Linked DNA regions of Homo sapiens. The protein of the gene in region 1 binds, or shares a complex with, the protein of each later gene. Each region holds a gene or a part of one and is shown in the gene's direction. Other genes may lie near its edges.

Evidence for each region.
Region 2: SRRM1 (region 1) and PPIL2 share a complex: the UniProt entries of both Homo sapiens proteins name them as parts of the minor spliceosome.

What each region holds. Positions count from the first base shown.
Region 1 is NC_000001.11:24,667,220-24,670,775, forward strand, and holds part of SRRM1 (serine/arginine repetitive matrix protein 1), read left to right. Parts: intron 1-1,903; coding exon 1,904-2,368; intron 2,369-2,900; coding exon 2,901-3,096; intron 3,097-3,556. UniProt on the Homo sapiens protein: Part of pre- and post-splicing multiprotein mRNP complexes. As a component of the minor spliceosome, involved in the splicing of U12-type introns in pre-mRNAs. Involved in numerous pre-mRNA processing events.
Region 2 is NC_000022.11:21,689,996-21,693,811, forward strand, and holds part of PPIL2 (RING-type E3 ubiquitin-protein ligase PPIL2), read left to right. Parts: intron 1-1,389; coding exon of another isoform or gene 1,390-1,498; exon of another isoform or gene 1,499-2,183; intron 2,184-3,816. UniProt on the Homo sapiens protein: Has a ubiquitin-protein ligase activity acting as an E3 ubiquitin protein ligase or as an ubiquitin-ubiquitin ligase promoting elongation of ubiquitin chains on substrates.

The sequences.
Region 1 (3,556 bases):
AGATTAGGGTGGGGTGGACATGGGGATGGTAATAGCTGCAGAACTATATGAATATACTAAAATCATTTAATTGTATACTTTAAATGGACCTTAAATGGGTAAATAGGTAGATTTTATAGCAGGTGAATCATGTATTGTCATAAAGATGTTAATACATTAAAAGATGGTATTGACTAGTAATTGTAAAGAGAAAATTTAGAGGATACTGGCAGATATCTCTTACCTAAATAATCAAAGATAACATCCTCAATAAAACATTGGCATCGTGTATTTCCTGGATACCTCTGTAGTATGCTTACCAATTATGCCAAACCTCAGTCTTATTATTAGGAAATAATCAGACAAACCCAAATTGAAAGTCATTTTACAGAATACCTGACCAGTATTCAAAAGTGTCAGTCATGAAAGACAATGACAGAAACAGTCACAGATTGGCAAGAACTAAAGAGATGTAGGGTCCTGGAGCAGAAAAGGAACATTGATTAAGTCCTGGAACAGAAAAGGGACATTCAGTAGTGGAAAACTGGGTTGTTTGCTATTTTAGTAATACTAAGTTATCACTGAGGTTCATTTTACAGTTTTGCTAATTTTCTTATGGTTATATAAAATATTAGCATGGTGAAGTGGCAAATCTCCTATTTTTGTAGCTCTTCTTTACAACTATTTTAAAGTGAAAATTAGGGGAAAATGTTTTAATGTCATTGCTCGGATATGTTGCCAAGCAATGTAATGACATGCTGCCACTCTTTTTTTTTTTTTTTTTTTTTTTTTTTGAGACAGTCTCACTCTGTCACCCAGGCTGGAGTGCAGTGGCCGATCTCAGCTCACTGTAACCTCCGCCTCCTGGGTTCAAGCGATTCTCCTGCCTCAGCCTCCCGAGTAGCTGGGATTACAGGCATCTGCCACCACACCCAGCCAGTTTTTGTATTTTTTGTAGAGATGAGGTTTCACCATGGTAGCCAGGCTGGTCTCAAACTCCTGACCTCAGGTGATCCGCCTCAGCCTCCCAGAGTGCTGGGATGACAGGTGTGACCCACTCTGCCCAGCCTGGCTGCCACTCTTGAATGCCTGTTAAGTGCCAGGCAAAGTGCTAGGTGCTTTATATGCTTTACTACTAGTCTTCAAAGCGACCTTGCTTGATAGTTGGTATTGTTTGCATTTTTCAGGTGAGGAAATGGGAGTTGAGAATTACTAAGTAATTACCCAGATACAGTGATGAAATTGTGCCCTACCACATTGCCAAAATATATGGCCTATTGTAAAGCTAACTCTGGGCAGGAATTTACTTTGATCTAAAAGTCTGCAATATCCAAGAGGAAATTAGGCAGTTTGGCCTGAAAAGTGGCCTTTTGAGACAGAAAATGGAACAGTCTCTTTGAGGGGAGGTAGAAGTGTCTTTAAGGCTTGTGCAGTGAACTCTTAATTATTCATACAGTGTCCAAATGCTCATTCAGAGAGGATACCACATAGGAGACCTCTTTAAAGTGCAGACTTCCTAAGGTGACCATAATAGAGTTTTGCTAATACAGTTACTTGGTTATTATATAATAACTGATGTTCAGTTAATACAGTGCAAGATTCTGTTTTCAAAAAACGTTAATTTTGTATAGATGTTAAAAGATTGACAAATTCACATCTTCTGAAAATTGCAAATTTTTGTTAATCAAAATGTCTTTTTTTCTTTTTTGTACTTAGTCCTGCAGACAGTGTCCTGTGTTGCAGTCAGCTGAGATAAACAAGTTTTATTGATATTTAAGTGAGAATATAAAGATAGCATGTTCACTTATAAATATATTCCCTTTGCCTAGTGCTAACTACAGTATAGCCAAACCTACTGATTACTTTTCATCCTGTTTCTGTATTTTGTTGAGCCTTTCAGCTTAATTATGTATCTTTTTCCTAGGACTCCTTCTCCTCCCCCACGTCGGCGCTCACCTTCTCCTAGAAGATACTCTCCTCCAATACAGAGGAGATACTCTCCTTCTCCACCTCCAAAGAGAAGAACGGCTTCACCTCCTCCCCCTCCTAAACGAAGAGCATCACCATCTCCACCACCAAAGCGGCGGGTCTCCCATTCTCCACCTCCCAAACAAAGAAGCTCCCCAGTCACCAAGAGACGTTCACCTTCATTATCATCCAAGCATAGGAAAGGGTCTTCCCCAAGCCGCTCTACCCGGGAGGCCCGATCACCACAACCAAACAAACGGCATTCGCCCTCACCACGGCCTCGAGCTCCTCAGACCTCCTCAAGTCCTCCACCCGTTCGAAGAGGAGCGTCGTCATCACCCCAAAGAAGGCAGTCCCCGTCTCCAAGTACTAGGCCCATTAGGAGAGTCTCCAGGACTCCGGAACCTAAAAAGATAAAAAAGTAAAAATATTTTATGCTTTTCCATTAGGAATACTTACATAGCTGTTTATATTTGGAAGCTTCCCCCCACCCCCATATAAAAGGAATAAGTTATGAATATGAGCTTTTAAGTCAAACTTGAGGTACTATTTACAGATCTTATTCCATTTTTTGGGATAGTTTCTGTGGTATAAGTTAAATGCCACAGGCTTTTACTTGGTTCTTAGCAGTTATTAATTTGTTTTTGAGGGGTATGCTTCCAAAACTAAACTTGAGTAAGACATTGAACATTTCTTGTGTGTGATGTAAGGAACTGACATTACTAATCTTACATAAGAAGCATCATTAACAGAATAGATAGAGGATTATGGGGCTTTAGCCACCCTCTGGGAAACATAGGTAATGTAAATTGGATATATGTTAGTTGAATCAACCAGCAATCTAAGTGGTATATTTGAAATTCATAACCTGGTTGTACAGTGTAGTTGGTGGTTTTCTCATGTGAAGAGAGATGGCTGTTCTCAATGCTGAATGTTTTTTCCTTTTTGTCTAGGGCTGCTTCCCCAAGCCCACAGTCTGTAAGAAGGGTCTCATCCTCCCGATCTGTCTCCGGGTCTCCTGAGCCAGCAGCTAAAAAGCCCCCAGCACCTCCATCCCCCGTCCAGTCTCAGTCACCGTCTACAAACTGGTCACCAGCTGTACCGGTCAAAAAGGCCAAAAGCCCAACACCGAGCCCATCACCGCCAAGAGTATGTGTCTGCCTTATTTTGGACACCCTTTTATAAATATGTATATGGTCACTTTGAAGCAGAGAAAATGTCATTGGGGCATTAAAATATTGGTGTTTAAACTTTTTTTCCCATTTGTGAGTTATACATCTGATCTTGGGCAGGTTTCTGTATTGCATAAAATCAGTGGTTAGGTGTCCATCTGTTTTTTGTTTGTTTTTGAGACAGGGTCTCATGCTGTCACCCACGCTGAGTGCAGTGGGATGATCATAGCTCACAGCAGCCTTCCTGGACGCAGGTGATCCCTTCGCCTCAGCCTCCCAAGTAGCTGGGATTATAGGCACATGCTGCTACACCTGGCTGGTTTTTTGTTTTTAACTTTTTGTAGAGACAGGGTCTTGCTGTGTTGACCAGGCTGATCTTGAACTCCTAGCCTCCAGTGATCCTCCTGCTGTGGCCTCAGATGTCCATATTTAATTGG
Region 2 (3,816 bases), on another chromosome or scaffold:
GTGGACTGGCTCCAGCAGGTTTTGCTGTGACAGGTGTGGCCCCTGCATGTTACGAGCAGGGCTGGCTGTGGCTTTGTGGCCTGGAATGGTTAAAATCACAGGGATGGCCAGGCGTGGTGGCTCACACCTGTAATCCCAGCACTTTGGGAGGCTGAGGTAGGTGGATTGCCTGAGCCCAGGAATTCGAGAGCAGCCTGGGCAACATGGCAAAACCCGATCTCTACAAAAAATAAAAAAAATTAGCGGGGCATGGTGGCGTGCGCCTGTAGTCCCAGCTGCTTGGGAGGGTGAGGTGGGGGGATAATCTGAGCCTGGGAAGTCAAAGCTGCAGTGAGCTAGGATCGCGCCACTGCACTCTATCCTGGGCAGCAGTGAGACCCTGTCTGGAAAAAAAAAAAAAAATCAAACGAGTCAGCTGTGCTTAACAGCTGGGCAAAGGCAGCTGGCAGCTATTCGTGCCACTTCCTTGGGGCTTTCATTTCAGGGTTAACGGGCACTTGTTTCCATGAAGGCTGGTATTCTCTTGGCCTCGCTGTGCTGACCTTTTTTTCTCATGCCTAATCACACTTTCCATTCCTCAGTCCCTTAGTGGTCTTTGAAGGGTTTGTCTGTTTTCACTTCACTTTGAAGGGTTTGTAATTGTTTTCAGTTTCTGTCTTTGCTTCTTCATGGTGCTTTTCCTCCTTCCTCACTTTAATCCATGTGTGTTTCTGATAGCCACGTCTGTCATTTTGAGGGTGCATGTTCCCTCTTCACTGCTTGCTGGTTGTTGGTAGCTTCCCTTTCAATTTCTTCTCAGCCAAGGATTGCCTAGGACTGTTGGTTATTTTCAAGTAGGTTGGGTGCGTGGTTTGTTTTTGTTGTTTGGCAGGGGCCAGGGCAGGGAATCATTTTATTATTTTTTATTTCTCTTTGGCTTAACCAGCCTGTGAAACTGCTGACAGATCAGTTGCCACCTTCTCTTTTTTTTTTTTTTTTTTTTTTTTGAGATGGAGTTTCACTCTTGTCACCCAGGCCGGAGTGCAATGGCGGGATCTCGGCTCACTGCAACCTCTGCCTCCTGGGTTCAAGCGGTTCTCCTGGGATTACAGACGCCCACCACCACACCAGGATAATTTTTTGTACTTTAGTAGAGACAGGGTTTCACCATGTTGGCCAGGCTGGTCTCCAACTCCTGACCTCAGGTGATCCACCCACCTCAGCCTCCCAAAGTGCCGAGATTACAGGCATGAGCCACCACACTCGGCCTTCTTTTCTTATTTCTAGTAGTATTTTGTGCTTTCTTGGACAACTGTTGCCAAAGGTTTGCCTATTTTACCGTATTCAAAGATCATTAGACTTTAATTTGTTACAGCTTTGTTTTCCCTTTTGTGATTCTTGTAATTAAAGATTTTCCAGGAGGAGGCCAGGCGCGGTGGCTCATGCCTATAATCCCAGCACTTTGGGAGGCCGAGGCAGGCGGATCACGAGGTCAGGAGATCGAGACCATCCTCGCTAACACGGTGAAACCCCATCTCTACTAAAAATACAGAAAACTAGCCGGGCATGGTGGCAGGCGCCTGTAGTCCCAGCTACTCAGGAGGCTGAGGCAGGAGAATGGCGTGAACCCAGGAGGCAGAGCTTGCATTGAGCCGAGATCGCGCCACTGCACTCCAGCCCTCCAGCCTGGGTGACAGAGCGAGACTCCGTCTCCAAAAAAAAAAAAAGATTTTCTAGGAGGAGCTTGCCTCAGGATGGTTCTTTTACTTTCCTCTTATCTGAGTTTAATTCTGCTTCTAGTTTCCTTCACTGTGTTAGAAATCAGCAAGAGAGGGAACTGCTTGCAGGTCAGAGCTCAGGTCTGCACCGTTGCAGATGTCACATCTGCGGACACTTGTCTGGTGGCCTCGGGTGTGGTCAGACTTGGTGGGCTCAGGAGCGTGTCCCTGCGTGGCTGGGGGGTGCATGTTTGATGCAGTGGAGGTTAAGTCCTGTGTCTCACCAGCCGGGTTGTGGGCTGTGCCTGCCTGCACCACCCTGGGGAGTGCTCCGTGCCGCCAGCGCCGGGACCCACCCCATGTCTTCCATCGTTTTCTTTTCAGCCTCTCTGGCTCTGCCCTCTGAGGGCTTTTTGAAGGCTCACAGCTGGGGTCTGTCGTGTTCTCCTTCATCCTGACAGTCTTTTTTTTTTTTTTCTTTGAGACGGAGTCTCGCTCCGTCCCCCAGGCTGGAGTGCAGCGGCGCGATCTCGGCTCACTGCAAGCTCCGCCTCCCAGGTTCATGCCATTCTCCTGCCTCAGCCTCCCTAGTAGCTGGGACTACAGGCGCCCGCCACACGCCTGGCTAATTTTTTGTATTTTTAGTAGAGATGGGGTTTCACCGTGTTAGCGAGGATGGTCTCGATCTCCTGACCTTGTGATCCGCCCACCTTGGCCTCCCAAAGTGCTGGGATTACAGGCGTGAGCCACTGTGCCTGGCCAATCCTGACAATCTTAAATGTGGACTTAATTCTTCAGGTGGTCTGTTGCGTTCTATGATCTTGTTGCTTTCTAGTTACCATTTTTTATATTTATTTTCATTTGCTTCTCTTCTCTTTCTGCTGGTTTGGAAATTAGATGTTTTACTTCTGGTCTAAGGTTAAGAAGGACATCTATTTAAAGTCCAAAGTTGGCCAGGTGCAGTGGCTCACGCCTGTAATCCCAGCACTTTGGGAGGCCAAGGCAGGTGGATCACAAGGTCAAGAGATTGAGACCATCCTGGCTAACACAGTGAAACCCCGTCTCTACTAAAAATGCAAAAAAATTAGCTGGGCGTGATGGCGGGCGCCTGTAGTCCCAGCTACTCAGGAGGCTGAGGCAGGACTATGACATGAACCTGGGAGGCGGAGCTTGCAGTGAACCGACATCGCGCCACTGCACTCCAGCCTGGGGGACAGAGCAAGATTCCATCTCAAAAAAAAAAAAAAAAGTCCAAAGTTATGAGGTAGTCTCTGCCTTCCTCCCAGACCAGGCTGGCAGAAACTCTCTCCTCGTCTCATGGCAGTGCTGTTGGCTGTTTTAATTCCACCCCATTTCCTTTTTTCTTTTTCTTTTTTCTTGAGACAGACTCTGTCGCCCAGGCTGGAGTGCAGTGGTGTGATCTCAGCTTACTGCAACCTCTGCCTCCCAGGTTAAAGCGATTCTCCTGCCTTGGCCTCCTAAGTAGTTGGGACTACAGGCACACGCCACCACGCCCAGCTAATTTTTGTATTTTTAATAGGGACAGGGTTTTACCATGTTGGCCAGGCTGGTCTCCAACTCCTGGCCTCAAGTGATCTACCTGCCTTGGCCTCCCAAAGTGCTGGGATTACAGGCGTGAGCCACTGTGCCTGGACGACCTGAGCATTTTCTTAGTCCATGTTTATTTATGTTACCCACGTTTCTTAATCCCTTGACTCCTGTTCTGGCTTTGTTGCCTCCTTTCTCCTCAGTCCTTCAACAGGTCCCTTGATGACATGGGGCTGGCTCTGGTTTTCCAGGTGTCCCCTCGTCCCAGCCACCTCCCACAGAGCTGCATGGCCAACCTGGTTCTGGGCACAGGGACCACCTGACAGGCAGTGGGCAGCAGCCGGGGCAGCAGGAAGACCTGGGGACAGCTGGAGTTCCGGGGTCCCCTGGGCAGCCTTGGGGGCTAATGACCTGCCCTGGTGGGCAGCGCAGGGAACCACGTGCACACATGCGTCCGTGGAAGCTGCAGGTTCCCAGAGCTGGCTGTAGAGGGTGGGCAGCTCCTGGTGTGCTCTTAGGCAGGCCAGGTGCAGAAGGTGCCATGCTCTCCCTAACCATCCAGCCCTCCTCC